4 linked regions of the Homo sapiens genome follow. The protein of the gene in region 1 purifies or fractionates together with the protein of each later gene. This does not show direct contact. Each region holds a gene or a part of one and is shown in the gene's direction. Other genes may lie near its edges.

Region 1 (5,548 bases):
GAGTTTGGAGGGATGGCCACTGAAGCCTCAGAGAGGACATCACTGTCCAGGGAGACTGAGCAGAGGGCAGGAAGATGGCTGGCCGGTGGCCTGTTCAGCCAACCATGTTTCGGTGGAGGTGGGGAGGTGCTGCTGGAGCTGCCTCATGCCCAGGACCGCCTTGGCCTGGCTCCTGATGGACCTTGGATGTGGAGGCAGAGAGTGTTGACTTGCCTCACACAGTCCGGCAGTGGCCAGGGCAGAATTTCAACCCCAGCTCGCTGATGGCAGAGCTTTAAAGTTCGTCTCTGGATTGCTGGAAATGGGCCACAACACACTTCTAGCTTGGGGCCCCCATGGTTCCCACAAATTGGGTCACAGCCACCATCCACACGTAGTTCTTAATCATTCTATGATGCCATCTTTGTTCCCTGGCCCCACTCTTGTATTCATTCCAAAATAGCAGGAGCGTCTCTGGGTGCTTTGCCTTGTTCCGCCACTGGAGATGCCAGTGGAGAGCTCATGGCTCCTGCTGTCATGTTGCTTGCAGTGCCTCTTTAATAGGCACTGATTTAGCACCTATGGTGTGCAGGGTTTTGGGCTTTGTGCATAGATTGGAGCAAAGGTGGGGAGTCAGTGCCCAGGTGAGTATGATGACCCTGCCCTCAGGAAACTTGCAGCTCTGGGGAGGGCAGGCAGCCCAGCAGCAGACGGGGAGCCCATGCTAGGCTGGCATGACCCAAGATGAAAGTCTGTGAAGGACAGCAAAGGAGAAAAGAGCGCCCCAGATTCTACCCCATCTCACAACTCTGTGTCCATGTGAGTGTTTCTTCCTGTGTGCAATATCATCCTGGGGAGACCACTGGATCATATATGCTGTCTTTTTGCTCATTTTATTAGTTGTCACCTTAATACACAGACTTTATAATGTTGATTCCAAAAGACTGCATCACATTTCATCTGCTGATGGCCACGATGGAACCAGCCCCCTGGTGCTGGGTGACGCAGGTGTTTTCAGTTGTTTGCTGTGATGAGGAATGAACATCCTGTGTGTAACAGTTCTTCTCCAAACAATGTGGGATTGTTTCCTCGAAGCAGTTTCCCAAAAGTCGAACAACTGGATCCCAGAGTTCTTGCAATGTATCAGCATGAAGATGTTTAAACAGATCAAACATGTTATAACCGCAAGTGGGGTTGTCCCTCGGGGCTCATTTCTTTGGTTGGATTCAGTTTTCGTTGGAGATGACCTCCGTATGGAGGTGGTCAGGAAGGGAATTCTGACCCAAAGAACAAACCCAGCCCAACCCCATGTTCACCCAGAGCCAGGTGGTGGGGGTAGAGCGAGGGCCTGAGAGGGATGCTGGGTCTGGCTCATCCCCACCCCACCGTTTCAGCCAGCACCGTCTTCCCAGAGGACCTGACATCCTAGCCCAGACTCTGGTGTAGGTGGGGACACAGGAAGTTGATTGGAAAAGTGGACTAACTTAGAGATTTCCAAGGCAAAAATCCAGAGAGCCCTGGGACACCTGTGGTTAATTCATTCAGCATTTGTCAAGTACCTATTAGGCACCACACATGTTGATCAAAACAGATATGATCCCACCCATATGGATTAACTGACTCCAAGGGGAGGCCACCGCGGGCCGCATAACCCAAAGGTAAAATTACAGTGATACGGAACCACAGCCAGGAGGGACTCCGAGAGCCCATAGCAGGGCGGTTTGGCTTGGTCCCAGAGGTCAGAGAAGGCTTGCAGAGGAGACCATGCTACTGCTTTGGGAGCTGCGCTATTGAAGGAGGAGATAAAGGTGGGAGGTGGGGGGAATGAAGGGAAATGATACTGGTTGGAGGGAAAGGAGGCTTTACAGAGCCTTCAGGCCACAGATGAGAATTTGGGCCCCTTCTCCTAAGGACCAGGGGAAGCTATTAAAGGGCTTTGAGCTGGGAAGAGTGACCAGACCAGATTTGTAATTCAGAGGTCAGCTTTGCTGTCATTACCTGGTGGAGAGTGGCTGGTAGAGGAACCAGAGGGAAATGGGGAACCCACTTAGGGTTGAGCGGCCAGTCAACAGGTGTCCTGAGAACTCACTGGGAGCCAGCTTCGTTCTCAGCACTTAGAGGGCTGCAAAGAGGCAGGCTGGATCCCTGGACCACACGTGCCCTCTGTCACAAGAGAGGCTTGTGGGGCATTGTGGCCAGGACCCAAGGTCAATCAGCTGGCATCCTTACCTCCTCACCACAGCACAGCCAGGAACACAAAGGCCCAAGAATGACATCTGAACAGCCAATGCCTGGCTCAGATTTGGCCTTGCTCAGCTAAAGCCTCAGCACTTTACCACTTAACCTTTGCTTTACATACACTTCTAACTCAGCCTACTACGGAGCTGAAATAGTCCGTTAGAAAGGGCAGGACTGTGGTTGGTGGAAATGTGACCCAGCAAGGCAGGGGAAAAGGGCCTGAAATCAACATCAGAACACAAAAGGCATGTTTGTTCAGGGCCATTTAGAAAAGTGCAGCTCAGGGTGGGGTGGGAGCAGGAGCTGGTATGGCGAGAACAGTGAGGAGCTGGCAGGGCAAAAGCAAGGACTGGGGCAGCAGAGTAGGAGGGATCAGGTGAATGCAGGAACAGGGCCTCAGGTAGAAAGGTCAGGGCGGTCTCCAGAGACCAAACTCACAGCTCAGAGCCACCAAACGTTAATATGGATGACGTCTCAAGGATCACAGCATCCAGGATAGACAAGCAGGTCTGATGGGTGGGCAGGGGCTGCTTCTACAGGAGACTGCTGAAACTTCCAGACCCAGAGGTGAGGGAGGCCGGCCTGCGGAGGGCCGTAGGATTCAGTTTGGAGGCCTCCTGGTGCTAAGGCTGCCATGAGCAGGGTGGATCAGGCGGGACAGGAGGGAACCGCCCTCTTTTCCCCTTCTTCCCCTCCCTTCTCCCCTCCATCTTTTCCTCCCTCCTCCTTTCCCTCCCTTCCCCACATTGACCTTCCATGAGCCTTCAGGGACCAAGTGTCTGTTTAGCCTTCTCTCCATAAAGGGACCCCCCAGGGTTTTAGCTGGGAGGCCAGAACATCTGGTGCCTGGAAAAGAGGAAAGGGCAGAGTCTTGGATGGGGGGTGACTTGCACAGGGTACTCTTTGACCAATCAGTCCCCCTTGATCCTTGGTAGTGACCTCCTACTCACACAAATTCCATTCTGCTAACCCTCACCAGCCCTCTGAGGTGGGTGGGCAGGGATTGGTGGCTTCATCCTGTATCTGGGAAGCTGAAGCATAAGGCACCTTTATGTCTAAGCCTTAGTGTTCCTCATCTGTAAAATGGGAAAAATGGAACAAACCCTCTCCCAAGGTTGTTGCAATGAGGATTAAGAGAGATGCATGGCATAAATGTTGGGGCCAAGATGGGGCAGCTTCAACGTGAAAGAGTCAGGATTTATTTCAGGCCTCCTGCTTCCAAGCCTGATATGGTGATCATTCTTCCATCCTGCCTTACTTATGAGAGGCACCTAAAAAGTCAGACAAAGCATCCCCCTTAACCCACCCCAGTAGAGCCAGGGATCAGGCATAGGCTCTCTGACCCCCAGCCCAGTATTCTTTCTAGCATTGCCCAATTAAAGCCCAGTGCCCTCAGCTGTACAGGAAGAATGCTGCTGTCCTTGCCCCACCCAGACCTATTGTCCAAGGAAGTGGGAATATCAGGTGATGTTGAGGGTGTAGAAGTGAACTGAGAAGCCTCTAACCCAGGTCTAAGCCAGACCCTGCAGGCCCTGCTCCAGCCTGCAGTTCGAGAGGAGCAGGTGGAGGCAGAGGCTGTCCTGTGACAGACATCTAGCAGGCTCATGCTGAGGACTCAGTGTATGCAGGATGAACTCGCCAGCTCTGCCCTCCAGGAGCAAGGGGAGGAAGGGGTCTTGATCACCTGCTGGGTACAGTATAGGGTCATCAATCAGGGTGCTGGATACAGGCCCCATCCACCTTTGGAGCAGCCAGGGGGTGGGAAGTGGGTGTTTCTGAGGGAGGGCTGGCCCTGTCTGCTGCACACACTACTGTACATCCAGGCAGATGGTGACATCAGCCACATGCAAGGGCTGGGAGGGCTTCCTGGAAGAATGAGCTTAACTGAGCACTCTTCCAGCAAGCATGGTTTGAGAGTCTGCCACGTGCTCCCTCTGAGCACTGGGTTTGGCACTGGGGAGACACAGTGCCCACGCAGACTACGCATGGAGCTGGAGGCCTTGCCTGCAGGCACAGGAACCTGCTGCTAGTGGAGAGCCTTGAGGGTTCCAAGTGGGGCGGGAGGGATGATGGCATTTCTGGCAGTTTTGCCTGATAGTGGCAGGTGGAGTGGGATGGTGCAGGCATAGGGAGACTGAGACAGACAGGCCAGTGGGGACATCTGGGAGGGCAGAGGCAGGAGCTGGACTAGGGCTTGGCAGTGAGGAAGCGGAGCCATGTGTGAGGAGACACAGATGTGTGCAGGGGGGCTGGGCACCATGGCTCACGCCTGCAATCCCAGCACTTTGAGAAGCCGAGGCGAGCAGATCACCTGAGGTCAGGAGTTCAAGACTAGCCTGGCCAACATGGTGAAACCCTGTCTCTACTAAAAATACAAAAATTAACCAGGTATGGTGATGCACACCTGCAATCCCAGCTACTCAAGAGGCTGAGGCAGGAGAATCACTTGAACCCAGGTGGCAGAGGCTGCGGTGAGCCAAGATCATGTCATTGCTCTCCAGCCTGGGTGACAGAGCGAAAGGCCGTCTCAAAAAAAAAAAAAAATATATATATATATATATATATATATATGTGCAGAGGTCACTGGCAGAGCAGGGGCATTTCAGGGCACCTCTGGGTCAGCGGTCCTGCAGCTCTCCCATGCCATCTGAGTACCAGGGGCTCCCTTTTGCACCACTGGCCTTCTCGGTGACCATCTGGGCAACCAGTGTGAATTGAACACTTACTTGGTGCTGGCCACTGGGTTTTTGTCCCTGAGCCTGAGATGCCACCCTGCCCTGGCCGGACGGAGGAGGGCTGCTCTGGCTTCTGGGCCAGGCCCTCCTCCCCACTTCCACCCCAGCTGGCCAGCCACACCCTCCCCATGGCCTGGGGAACCACCACCCTTGGGCTGCAGGTCAGACGTGACCCTACAGGGCACCTTGTCCATCCAGCCCCCATTCCCCACCCCTCTGTGCAGTGCCCTCCAGGGGCCTCCAGGTTCTGTTTATGTCATTCCAAAGGGAGAGGAAGCTCATTACCACACAGCAGCCCTTCCAGCTCTGCTCTAAGGGCCCAAACACTGGCCTGCCCTTAGCTGTGGCTCTGGTGCCTCCTGCTTCCATAGGCCCTGCCTTCCTGGGTCCTGAAGGCTCAAGCTCTGGCTGCAGAAGGAGGCAGCCCAGATCAAACCCAGTTTGGATGCAGCCTGGGCCCACAGAAGCCTCTCTGATGAGGTCGGGGGGCTGAGCCTATGGCAGTGCAAACCGAGTGTTCATTCTTAGGGTGTTTGGGAAGCCCCCCTTCATCTCCCACCTGGCACCCTGACTGGGGAACTGGCCCTTTAAAGCCA
Region 2 (4,524 bases), on another chromosome or scaffold:
TCCAATTAGAAGCTCCTTACATCTTCTTTTGGGCCAATTAGGGTATGTATACTTTTTAGGTATATAGGTAAGTATTGGCATAGCTTGTTTACTTTATTAATTTTGTTACGGTTCAATATTTTGACAGCTTTATTTAAAAAAAAGTTTTAATTTCTGTTTGGTTTTACTGGCAGGACACAAAACAGTGTTTTCCTGAACTCTTTACCTGTTGTTTTTCATCGGTTTTGGTGATCACCAGAGTACTTGGAGTCCCCTGACGTGGTTAGCAGAACCTCTCAGCTCTGCTCTCACCTGAGCCATTTGAGATAAAGCGCTTTTGTGGAGTCAGTTAACGATGCTGCCCCTGGAAATAATATACCCAGTGACGAGTACCCATAGCCTAAGATCAGGAGTTGGTCTTTTTATTTGCCTGTTGGCAAATACTATATGTGTGTTGCTTCTTAAAGTGTGTTCATATGTGTTACTTCTTGAAGTGACCTTTAAACAGTCCTGTTTTAATGGTACTGTCTAACCCTTGCAGTTGCTAATGTATGCTAAATTTCTCAGGCTAACTTGTTTGTTTATTGTTTTGTTTTCACTATTTTGCAAGAAAATCCCTTTAACATCCCAAGCTAGCATCAATCAAATTGTTTCAGTGCAGTGGGAGTCTTGCTAAAAGAGTTTTGTGGTTCCACATTGAGTAATTCAAAACATGCTTTTTAATGTAAGTGATTTAATAAGGACTTGAATATCAGACAATTCCAATTTTGTTTTGAAAATTTTTTAAATCCTTGACTTATATTTGAGCCTATACAGAACATCTTCTGCAGTTCATGTAGACTCGGCTAGGCACTATTATAGGTAAACAAGACTGGCTTGGGCTTTCTGGATGGAGCTGACAGTAGAGGTAGTGAGTGGTTGCAAGCTGTCTGCCCAGCTCTCAGAAGGTACCCGTGGGCACTGACCGGTGTCACTCCAGAATTCTGTGAGGGTTACAAGGAAGGACATTGTCACAAATTAAAGAATTCTAGAAAGCTTAGGCAGTGCCTTTGATGATATAAAAGTCGGCATTACAGCCTAATAAGTTTATCTGTATTTTGTATCTTGAGGTACAGTGGTATATGTTCACATTGGATCCGTTTGAAAATCTCTTCTGTGTCTCTTTGACAATGTGACTGGGACTTAATAGAGAAAATAATTTAAGTTGGAGAATCATAAAATTATATTTGTTAAATATTTTATTTTATAAGCATACACGTGTATGATTCTTCCACCATTTTTTGAGTACAGAGCTGAGGACCTTTCTTTGAGTTCCAGATTGTCTTTTTAGCTGAACACAGTCACCTTTTATGATTTTCTATTTGTTTCTTTCAAATAGAGTGAAGACTAAGATTTTCAAAGGATTCTGAATAGAGCGTCATTTAGATTTTAAATAGGACCTCTCCACTAATGTTTGATGTTCTCATTTACACCTGATTTGACCATTTTGTTAGTGTTTGAGTCTTTCATACATGGTCATCTTGATTTCCCAAGGGACAATTTTTTTTTTTTTTTTTTTGCACTCAAACTTCTTTCCCTGTTACAGACTATTGAATTATGGTGCATATTTAGCATTATGAGTACAACTTGCATTAGCATAGTTGGGAATAAGGACAACAGATCCCTGATAAGCACAGGCTTCCCCAGGCAGGAGTGGCTGGCCCAGCCTTGCCAGGCTGTAGTCTCTGGTGGGTGTGGGTGACTTTGGCTGTGTTACAGAGGACGTGGAATGTTGGTTAGTCCAGCTGGTCAGCTAGTGGAGGCCAGGATAGAGGGTGTCTATGGTATCTGGAAGCTAGTTACCATGTTCTTTGGGTCTCGACAGTTGAACTGCTTATATACCCGAGATTTTCTGTTGAACATTTACTGAGTGCCTGCTGCATGCTGGGCACTTTGACATATATCACCTTATGGAAAGTTCACAATAATCCTGCCAAGTGGCTGGTATAATTATTATTTTGAGGCCCAGAGAGATTGATATTTGGGCAAGTCAGAGAGCTAGGAAGTGATTGAGTTAGGATTCTGTTCCTCCGCCCTTCTGTCCAGTTTGGCTGGATGGTTGGGATGTTGTCGTGGTTCGGTCTTGGATATAATAAGGACTCCAGAGGAAAAGGCTGGCACTTGGGGGCCTCACCAAAAACCAGACAGCTCACAAGAGACCAAACGAGTGGTTGATATGACAGCTGAGTTACAGCAAAGTCCTGTTCAGAAGGCCCCTGAGTGTGGAAACAGCAGTTTGCAGCCAGCGAGTGAATAATCTAAATTATTATTTATTGAGCACCCAGTGGGACCAGGTGTGAATGAAGCCTCTGCTGAGGGCTAAGGGTTGAGCGGTGTTTTAAGTGTGGCTCATCTGGTCCTTACTGCAACTTGGTGAGGTTGCTAGTTACACAGGTACGGAAATTAAGGCTCCAGAATTTCCTTGCTGAGCGGCACACAGTTAATGAGGGTGTTTTTTGGAAGATTAACTTTGGCCTTGGTTAGAAGAGTCCTCTTACTCTACCACAGGCTCAGCTCGTTGGTAGCACGATTCTAAACATAAGCAGTGGCCACCCCTTCCATTCACCGTGCCTCACGGCTGCAGATGCTCTTCTATGCAAGGCTGCTGTCTTGTAAACCCACAGAGTGCACAGAGCAGTGTGGCCCACAGGAAACAGCATCAAATCTGTTGTGGCTTTGGATGCAGGTGACAGGCAGCTCTATTAATATGTAAGTGACATGAACAGGACATTAGTCTGAGTGGCCTAGCTGGCTAACCCAGCAGCTCTGTGCTCTCCTCACTGATCCATACTTGGTCTGCCCTTCTGCTCTGCTCCTCTGTTGGCTTCATTCTCATCCCTACCCAGTAGGTCTCAAATAGAGGCCGTGGCTTCAGGTGTCACAGTCCCATGACAACACCCAGTAGTGGAGACAGCAGGGTTTCTTCCCCTTGTACTTAGTCTCCAAGTCGGTGAGCAAACGGTGACCCAGCCCCAACCCCATGTTTCTTGTTACACCCCTGGGGACAGTGTTGCCTCCCAGGCTGGTGTCTGAAGCCCACACACAGGACTGCCTTTTCTCCTGAGGCGGTGGCCTGCCACCTCCCCCAGGACACGTGGAAGGAGGGGAAGGGGTGGTGGGAATCCCACTGAAGGTGGTTTTAATCTTGGCTTCCACACTTCCTCACCATCTGCCCCGGGGCAAATGGGCTAGCTTTCCTGAGACTTGTTATCAGTGAATTAGGGATGCTATCTGCTTCTTAGATAAATAGGATAACGTATGTGCAGTGCCTGGCACACGTGATTGGCTGTCGTTTCAGTGCCTGTTCCTAATACGAAAATCTTCAAGTCTCTTATCACGCGTGAGGCACACCTCAGAGTGCCTGCTTTGCTGCTGGTGGATTTGTGGTATTTAGTATTCTAAGTTAAGGGTGTGTGCGTGTACGTGTGTGGATGTGGATGTGCATGGGGGGGTGTGTGTGTGTTGTGAGTCTGATATCATGCTTTGCCTCTAGATTCAGTCAGTCCATGTTGTGGAAACTGGATCGTCAAGCATTACTGGGCATCTATGCGGAGTAGTTGCTTGAGTCTGTTGGTTTCCTTTTTAAATTTGCTCCAAGTTTATCTTTATTATCAGAGGCAGTGTTCATGATTCTTACAAACTTCATTAAAAGGGAAAAAACGTCTAAGCCATAATCTGCTTTAAAAAAACAGCAGGGGAGAATAATCCTGCTCAGTTGCTGATCCAGCCTGTTGGCAGGCTATCCTGAAAACGAGCCCACCTCCGTCATCCGTAGGACACAATAGCTTGTCTACAGCTGCCTAGAATCAGGCTGCTTGCTGTGATGGAGCTGAGCAGAATTCTATCCAATTGTTTCTTCCTCCTGGCTTTTGAGAGCCTGCCTGCTTGCTGGAGCATGACAGATTCGGGGCTCAGTTTTGCAATTGTTTCTAGTGTGCATTTCCGTTTGATCTGTATTTAATCTCTATCTTTTACAGTTAACATGATCTTTTTTGAGGTGCATTAAAAAAAAACACACACATCAGCAAGCATTTGCTGGGGGAAATGCTCTTGATAGCACCACTTGAAGAGGCCAAGGTCAATTTTTATCAGATTTGCCTTGCTTGGGAGATCTTCAGATTTGATGAATGTGAAATGCATGCTTGATGGGTATCCTATTGGAATTTTAATTAACTTTAAAAGAACAGGGTGTCGAGCTGAAGGTATTGGCAACAGTGAATGGTTTACAGATCATGCAGGCACCCCATAATGTGAGCCTCCCTTTTCCCATTGAGTGAAGTTGGAATGAAAAAGTGTATAAAGTTGCAGCATGATTTGTATTCTGCTTTCTTTAGGCTCTCCTGGCCCTTGATGGCTCTGCACATCCTTGGAGGCCATTTAGAGCTGCAGCTCTCCTTTGGGAGACCTGAAGGAGGCCCAAGAAGAGTCACTGCGCTCTTGGGTAGCACGTGTTTACATTGTTAACTGATGCAAACGAAGATATGATGGTATTTGCATTTCCACTTA
Region 3 (4,524 bases), on another chromosome or scaffold:
CTCTTGTCCAAACTATAGACTTTTACCCTTTGGGTTTCTTTCTCTGAGAGGCACAGTGAGAGACCCCAGGAAGCTGACTTTCTCAGAGCAGATAAGGAAGCTGGATTTAAGCATGGCAGATACAAGACTGGTGCCAAATCTGAATTGCTGGATCCTCATCTTGACTTTACCCAACAAACTACTTAACCTCTCAGCCCCAGTGGCTCCCCTGACCCCAAACAAGAGTGCCTTCCCCCACTAGCTAAGTTCAGTAGACTTAGGAACAGATGTCTTTCAGAGCTGGCCCACTAGGCTGCCCTCAGTAGTTCCATGAGAGTCCCGGAGCTGTAGGACCCCAGGGGTGTGCTCCCTGTTCCCCAGCTTCTTGAGTCTCTGCCCCTGGCTTACACTCTCTCACACCCTTTTTCTCCCTGTTCCTTGGACCACAGGACTTCTATGCATCTGTGCTGGATGTCCTGACACCAGATGATGTTCGGATTCTGGTTGAGATGGAAGATGAGTTTTCTCGCCGTGGTCAGTTTGAACGAATTTTTCCTTCTCATATCTCCTCTCGCTATCTCCGCTTTTTTGAGCAGCCACGATATTTCAACATTCTCACCACCCAATGGGAACAGAAATACCATGGCAACAAGCTTAAAGGTGATGTGCCCTCCCTGCCCTCAGAAAGCCAAGTTTAGTGAGAGATTAAATCCCAGTATACCAAGAAATGGGCCTCTCTGGAAAGAATTGGCCAATTGATTCTACCTTCTTAAACCCCAACTCCTGCTAATCTTGTCCTAGGAGTAGATCTGCTCCGGAGTTGGTGCTACAAAGGGTTCCACATGGGAGTTGTCTCTGATTCTGCTCCAGTGGTGAGTGCTGCCAGTGTGGAGGACAGCTCCTTCTCAGGCCCCTCCCTCCTCTGCCTTATGAGTGCAGCAGGAGTTGGGTTGGTATGTATAGGCCTCTCTCACTTCTCCGCTAGGCTCTGCTTCTGTCTCACCATTCTTTCCTTTCAAGGGAATAGTTGCCTCCAGGATTCCCTGGGTACCTTTCTTTCAAGGATCAAAAAGTGCTTTGTAGGCCTCAACTTCTTGTTTGATTCAGAAGAGAACTGAGACTTTTACCCACCTGGGCCCATGCCTGAGGGGTAGGGAAGGGGAGAACCCCATGATCCATTTAGAGGTAGAGCTGGAGGGTACCAAGACCCCAAACACTCCTGCCTTGCCTCCGCCAAGCCTTTTGGTCTCATTGCTTCCTTTGCTCTTAGTGGTCTCTCCCGACATCACTTCTGACTATCTCAAAGGATGACGTGATACTCAATGCCTTCAGCAAATCAGAGACTAGCAAGCTGGGGTGAGTGCTGCCTGGGCAAGGGAGGGGCTGCTGGCTGTGAGTTTGTAGAGTTTTCTTCCTTCCCCTCTTCCCAGACTGTGGCAGTGAGATCAGCATTCTCCAGCTGGGGGTTGGTGGGAGCGTCAGGACATGCAGCCATAGCATCCTTTTTCTGGTAGATCTTGGTATGCCCAGGGAAGCTGAGCTGGAGGACAGAAGTGCTTCCTGAAGCAGCCACTGTCAGCCATACCCACTAGCTGTGGGAAATTGTTAGCCCTCTACCCGCACCCCCATTCACTCTTGCACTGCAGGTCTCAAGCCTTCAAGTAAATAGAATTTTTTTTATGGTTATTACATTTCCATGTAATTTTGGCCTACAACACTGTAATGTCGTGAATGCCTGCTCCAGACTGAAGGCAAATCCTAAGGTAAAGTCTCAGTTAAACAGTGTCTCAGTCATTTCTTTCACCACCTATTCCCTCCAGAAAACAAAGCTCCTGTGAGGTTAGCCTACTACTCTCTGAAGACGGGACCACGCCCAAATCCAAGAAGACTCAAGCTGGCCTTTCCCCTTATCCCCAGAAACCCAGTTCCTCAAAGGACAGTGAGGACACCAGCAAAGAGCCCAGCCTTTCTACCCAGACGTTACCTGTGATCAAGTGCTCTGGGCAGACTTCAAGACTTTCTGCTTCCTCCACTTTCCAGTCAATCAGTGACTCCCTCCTGGCTGTGAGCCCATAACTGGCCTCTCTCCAAAAGCCTCTGCCCAGGAGCATGGGCATCAGCTACCTCACGGGAACCAGCCTGCTGTTCAGACCAGTCTGACCCCCTACCCCTTTCACCCTGTCCCTCCTCAGAGTATTTTTTGAAGTGGTTGCATTATAGAGATGGGTATTTGTAGGGCCGGAGGGATGGTAGTGATGGGGAGAAGGTGAGGAAGGGTCACCCTCTGTCACCTGTCTGCCTGGCTGGCACCTCATATCTCAGCAGAGAAGCCAGTGGTGGCCACGCAGCCTTATAAAGCAGGTTTTGGTTTCTACCTTAAGTGAGCCATGTGTGGTTTGTCTGGGGGCCCTGGTGTGGTTGCTGAGTTGTAGCTCAAGAGGAGAAAACATACAGAACATATTTGGACCGGAAATCCTTTGTTCTGAATTTGAGGGGGTCTTCTGAGGTCCTTACTTCCTTAGGTCTTTCCTCACCCCTCTCCCACCGCTGTCCTGAGGAGAAACCCTTGAACTTCCTCAGTAGACAGGCGGAGAGGCCACAACATGCCGAACCCATTTCCTGTCATCCTAGTCTTGGGTCTTCACCGCCTCCTTCCAAATACCCACCCTGCCAGCAGCCCTAGGTCTTCCTGTTCTGACCCCCCATCACTGCTCGTTCAGCCTTCTAGATGTCTCTCTCGTGGACATCTGTTCTTTAGCTGTTGGCTTTCTCTGAGGTGTGAGAGGGTCTATGAACTTTGTGAATTTCCCATGGCCCCAGTGAAGGAGCCCAGATAATCCCAGTAGCTGTTACCTGTCTCCATGTATCAAAGGACACAGTCCAGGGGGAGGGTGGAAGGAGATGTGGTTTCTCTATAGTGCAACAAACATGGTTTCTCAATGTTCTGCTGTGCAGCAAGCAGGGTCTGGCGGCTTGGTAGGTGGGTTTCAGGAGCAGTCACTATTGTAGGATGGGCTTCCAATCAAACCTCAGACTAAACTCTTGTACTGAACTGATTCTACCTCCCTCCTCTAGACTCAGTAAACAGTGACTATTCAATAAATGTTGACTGAGTGAACTGTATTTACAGAGATCTCAAAGGACCCCAGCACTTGAACCAGAAGTTCTAATTGTCTCTCATCTAGGTATGAGAAAGTGGAACCTGGGAACAGCACAAGCGGAAGAGTTCGGATCAGAAAGGTTTTCTCTGAAGCCGTGCTCCTTCCTAACCCTGCACTTAGTGGTTGCTGCTTGCCTCCTCCCCAGCCCCTGTAGTCCCTTTACTTAGTTTTTTCTAGCAGTGGCACATATAAGAAGCCAATTGGCCCCGTGTCCCTGCTACTCAAGTTTTCTCTTTGCACATCAGGCAGAAAGCTCAGCTACTTGGTCTCACCCTGGACTGTAGCTGCCCCCATTCTCTCTGAGCTTTGGAAAGATAGAGACTTCTGTGTTTCATGGCTCCTGGAGTTCTGTGGCGAGGTGGGGTGGGGCCCTGGAAAGATCACTGAGAGGCCTGATTGGGTTCAAGGCCACAGAGTAGGTGGGTGTTTGGCCGGTCCTAAGGCCATGTTGACAGTTGTGAAAGTTTGGTGACAAAGTCCTGGGCATCATTGGCTGCTCAATAGTAAGGACTTTAAAGTCGGGCCATAATGGGAGAGGTCCTTGACACTCCTATTGGATCTTTTCTGATGTAATTGAAGTGACCCGCCTCTTCTCCCCGCTGGCTGCAGTATTCTAGTGCAGACATGACATGGGGAATCTGCTGCCTTCCTAAGAGAAAATGAGCTGCCTGCCTGGCAGTTTTGTTGTGGCTGGGCCTTCACGGCAAGGACCTAGGCACGGAGTCCTGGTTGAGCTGGTTTACTCCATGAAAACGAACTTCAGTTCTTTGGCTTGCCCCCTGAGAATCCCTGTACAACACAACCAATCTATTTCCATTGCCCTAACTGGAGAGGGAACCAGCATTGCTGAATGGGGGTATTGGGGGAAGCATGGTGGGGGAAGGGAGAAGGACTTAGGAAATTAAGTCCTTGTGAGCAATGAAGGTCCTAAAAGAGCAATGGAAAGACACTGCTCTTAGTTTAAAACAAGTTTGTACATTATTCTTAATTTTCATCACATTTGAGTATCTGATAGACATGGGTGTTTTGCTGGGTAGGAGAAAGGAATGGGACTTACATACCACATTTACCTCTCACTCTTGAGAGAAAATTAAATCTTATCAAGCATTTGGCATATATACTTTTGTATTGAATGCCCACAATATGAGGTATTCAGCTAAGCAGGAATTTTTGAGAAGGAATGAGATTTTTTTGGGAAGGTTAAATTGGGAGTATAGTAGAATAAATATTTGTCAGAATATGTCAGTTGTTTTCCTAAGTTGATAACTTACCTAGTCTATTTGGAGGAAGGGAGGCGAGTGTTCTTGAGACAAGGAATGAAGTGCAGGCTATTTCTGGAGTAGTGGAGTAAGGGCTTGGGGTGGAAAGTGGAGGAGGGCAGTCA
Region 4 (3,807 bases), on another chromosome or scaffold:
AGTATTCCATGCTATAAGTGTCCTGCTAAACCCTGTTTGTACTGCATCCTGTAAATATTTATACATTTCAATTTTGTTCACTTCAAAATATATTTCCCCTTGAGACTTTTAATACCTTATTTAGAAATGTGTTAATTCCCAAGTATCTGAAGATTTTTTTTTCAGTTATTGATTTCTAGTTTAATTATATTATGGTCTAACAATATAAATTTGTTAGGGTTTGTTTTATGGATAGGATATGACGGTCTGCCTGGTTGAATGTTCCAGTTGCAGTTGAAAAGAACATGTATTTTCCTGTTTGGGGGTGAAGTAGTCTATAAATATCAGCTAGATCCCATTATCTTGTGATGTTACTGATTTATTTTATATTCCTGCTGATTTTCACTCTAGTAGTTATATCAATTACTGAGAACAGAGCTTTCTAGTTAGGGAGATGTGCGATGCCAACTCTTTGCTGTTTAATGCACAGCAGGCACGGTCAAAAGGGCAAGTGCCTCTCCAGTTTCTGAGGCCAGAGTGGAGGGTTGCTGTTGCTCTGATGTTTGCTCAGTGCAAGGTGGAGAAGGTTGGTAGCTCTCTACTACGGTCTCTACAGTGTCTGGTGGGGAGGAAGACAGGTACCACATCTGCTTGTGTTAGTGCAGGGAGGAACAGGCTATATGGCTCTGCCTTACAGTTTTGGTAGTCTCCTGGTGGGAAGGAAGGGGGACCACCTCAGTAGTACAGGCTGGGAAAGGTTGTCAGAGCTCTATCTCACAATTTCCCTAACACCCAGTGGGATAGGGTATCACCTTGTTAGTGTGAGGACGGTCAACAGGGCTCTACCTGTCTCCACAGTGCTTGATGGGGGAAGGGTAGGTGTGCTCCCTGGTTAGTGTAGGGTGATGATACTCAACAGGACTGTACCCTCCCTCTTCACCCCACCCTTGCCACCTCCCCACCGCCCCCACCATCCCCCCCACCCCGCCGCCCCGTTTCCACAGCACCTGGAGAGAAGTAAGGTACAGCTTCTTTCATGGTGTTCACCTAGGGTTCAGCAGGTATAAAAAGATTCTGTCCTGTAGACCTGTCCTCCCCCAGGGCTATTGGTTACATAGAGCATGTTTTTCATGTTTGTTTTTTTTTTTTTCCAGTCTGTGCATATTGCTGTTTCCAGAACGCAGGCTCTTTTATGGCCCAGGCTGGGGTAATAGGAGGTACTAAAGTACATGGCGGGTGGAGACTCAAGGGAGGGTCATTTTTAGAATTTTCAGTGTTTTGATAGGTGCTTTTTGTCCACTCTTTAATTACCAGAATAAGGTGGGATGCTTACTCTTTCTTGTCTATAACTGGATGCCCCTCACTTTGATTTTGAAAGCTTCATTGAATATGGAATCTATTCTTTCAGAACTTTAAAAAGGATGTTTCCATCTTCATAGGTCTGTTTTTTTTTCTGCTAAGAAGTTAGCAGTTATTCTTATTGGCCCATTTATAATGTATTTCTTTCTGTGGCTTTCAAGATTTGCTTGTTATTTTTGGTTTTGTAAGGATGGCTGTCTTTTGTTTATTGTGCTTTGGGTTCGTAGAGCTGCTTTTATCTGTGGGTTGATATTTGTCTTCAAATTGGAAAGGTTTTGTATGATTTCATCAATTTGTTTCATGCCTTAATCTCTCTTATTTCTCTGAGTTCCAAATACATGCATGTTAGAATACTTTACCTTTTTCATAGGCAGCTAAATAACTATTTTTTTAAATCAGTCTTTTATGTTGCTGTACCTCAGGTTGGGTGGTGGTGTTTTTTTTGTTTTGTTTTGTTTTGTTTTGTTTTGTTTTTGCCTGACCTCTAGTTGATTGTCAAATCAGCTGTTAAACCTAGCCAATGAATTTTTCATGTTATACCCTGTATTTTTCAGTTCCACAAGTATATTTCTTTGTATGTTGAGATTCCACCTCCCCCATATCTGTTCATTAATTATGTTCAACTTTAATTCCTTGAACATATTTATGTAGATGTTTTATAGTCCTTGTTTGATAATTGTACCATCTGGATCAGCCCTGAATCTCTGTTAATTTTTTCTCCTGGTTATGGGTCACATTTCCTGCATCTCATTTGTAGTAGTTTTATTGTATACTGAACATTGTGGATGCTGTGGTCTTTAGACTCCAGATTTTATTGCATTCCTTTAAAGAGTTTTGAGGTTAGTTCTGGCAGACAGTTAACTTACTGGTGACTAAACCTGATCATTTTATAAGTTCTGTTCAGGCTTTTTTGGCCTAGTCTGCAGTAAATCTTAAATTGTGGCCTTTCTTAGGTCTGTGTTATTTTCCCTTCCTGAGCTTTGTTTTAGATCCCTAAGTTATTTCACATATTTTGACTAATTTTGTTTTCTATTATTTATTTATGGGTTTTCACAGCAGAAGGGGAAGTCTGGTATCAGATTTTCATGGCCAGAGTGGAAGTAGTGTTGCTATTTTTCATAGCTTCCCAGTCGATTCTGATGTGCATTCAAAGTTAATAACTATTCTAATGTAGGGTTTCTTGACAGCTGCACTGTTGACATTTGGGAGCTGAGCTGTTATTTGTTGTGGGGGTGCTGTCCTGTGATGTAGGATGTTTCGCATCATTCCTAGTACTTATCTACTAGGTGTCAATAGTATCTCCTCCTAGCTGTAACAACCCAAAATGTCTCCAGAAATTGCTAAATGTCCTCTGTGGGGCAGGATCAACCCAGGCTGAGAACCAATGCTCTATCACAGTAGATTATTGCATTGCCTTGAGCCCTTTGCTACTCAAAGTGGGGTGTGCAGACCAGCTGTATTGGCATCATCTGGAGCTTCTCAGAAATACAGAATCTCAGGTCATACTCCTAGACCTTTTGAATGAGATCTGCATTTTAACAAGTTATGATGATCTGTTTGCTTTCTAATACTCGAAGAATAATGCCGTAGAGCAGGGGTCAGCAAACCTTTTCTTAAAAGGCCAGAAAGAAAATATTTTCAGTTTACTTTCCATACAGTTTTTGTCAGAACTATTCAACAATGCCATTGTAGTGCAAAAGCCCACATAGACAATACATAAACAAATTGATGTGGCTCTGTTCCAATAAAACTTTATTCACAAAACAGGCAACTAGCCAAGCCAAATTTTGGCAACTCCTGTTATAGACTATCCTAATCAGACCCCCTCAGTGTACTGAAGACAACAGGTGGTTAAATTCTTTGATGAGTGCCTTGCCATATGATGTCATTTGCTGATGTTCAAGAGAGATTAAGTGTATAGATTACACAGTAGATGATTCTGGAAATTATAGTAGCTTGACTTCTATCCTTACCTAAGTGGAGATATCTCCCAGCCTTGCACATGTGAGCTATATGTAAATGCTGCTCTATGATTTGATAGCATAATTATTATTTGTATTATGCTTTATAGGCCTACTGGAATAATTATTCACTTATTTTGACTTTAGTTAATAAAGCTGACAAACTTATGAAAAACTGCATTAATGTGACTTCGTTAGCTCAGAAAGAGTAGTTTAAAATGAGTTATTTAACTCTAAAGTGAGTCATTTAACTCTCAAGTAATTTTTTTTCATAGGAAAGCTAGTAGTTTTTAAAACATCCTTTGTTTTATGTAGGACTCCTTTCTGACACTTCCAAAACTCTGTATCTAGAAAGGGGAGGGCTGTTTGTTTGAAGGGTGGCAGTTTAAAGGTTGAGAAGGTAGTAGCTATTCTGAGAATGATGGACAGTGAACAAGCTTAAAGTATTTTGCTTTGTTTTATAAATTTCTTCTCTTCTAAGTTAGTTACTTGATAAATGGTGCTGAGG

Evidence for each region. Proteins that work in one complex are often made in the same cells at the same time.
Region 2: the proteins of MAPK8IP1 (region 1) and SH3RF3 purify together in Homo sapiens (affinity purification with western blotting; one study listed by BioGRID). This does not show direct contact.
Region 3: the proteins of MAPK8IP1 (region 1) and TTLL4 purify together in Homo sapiens (affinity purification with mass spectrometry; 2 studies listed by BioGRID and IntAct, with this or other methods). This does not show direct contact.
Region 4: the proteins of MAPK8IP1 (region 1) and VRK2 purify together in Homo sapiens (affinity purification with western blotting; one study listed by BioGRID and IntAct). This does not show direct contact.

What each region holds. Positions count from the first base shown.
Region 1 is NC_000011.10:45,890,874-45,896,421, forward strand, and holds part of MAPK8IP1 (C-Jun-amino-terminal kinase-interacting protein 1), read left to right. Parts: intron 1-5,548. UniProt on the Homo sapiens protein: The JNK-interacting protein (JIP) group of scaffold proteins selectively mediates JNK signaling by aggregating specific components of the MAPK cascade to form a functional JNK signaling module. Required for JNK activation in response to excitotoxic stress.
Region 2 is NC_000002.12:109,132,205-109,136,728, forward strand, and holds part of SH3RF3 (E3 ubiquitin-protein ligase SH3RF3), read left to right. Parts: intron 1-4,524. UniProt on the Homo sapiens protein: Has E3 ubiquitin-protein ligase activity.
Region 3 is NC_000002.12:218,752,335-218,756,858, forward strand, and holds the end of TTLL4 (tubulin monoglutamylase TTLL4), read left to right. Parts: intron 1-428; coding exon 429-639; intron 640-780; coding exon 781-851; coding exon of another isoform or gene 852-932; intron 933-1,249; coding exon 1,250-1,335; intron 1,336-1,799; coding exon 1,800-2,055; 3' UTR 2,056-3,082; downstream 3,083-4,524. UniProt on the Homo sapiens protein: Monoglutamylase which modifies both tubulin and non-tubulin proteins, adding a single glutamate on the gamma-carboxyl group of specific glutamate residues of target proteins.
Region 4 is NC_000002.12:58,154,806-58,158,612, forward strand, and holds part of VRK2 (serine/threonine-protein kinase VRK2), read left to right. Parts: intron 1-3,807. UniProt on the Homo sapiens protein: Serine/threonine kinase that regulates several signal transduction pathways.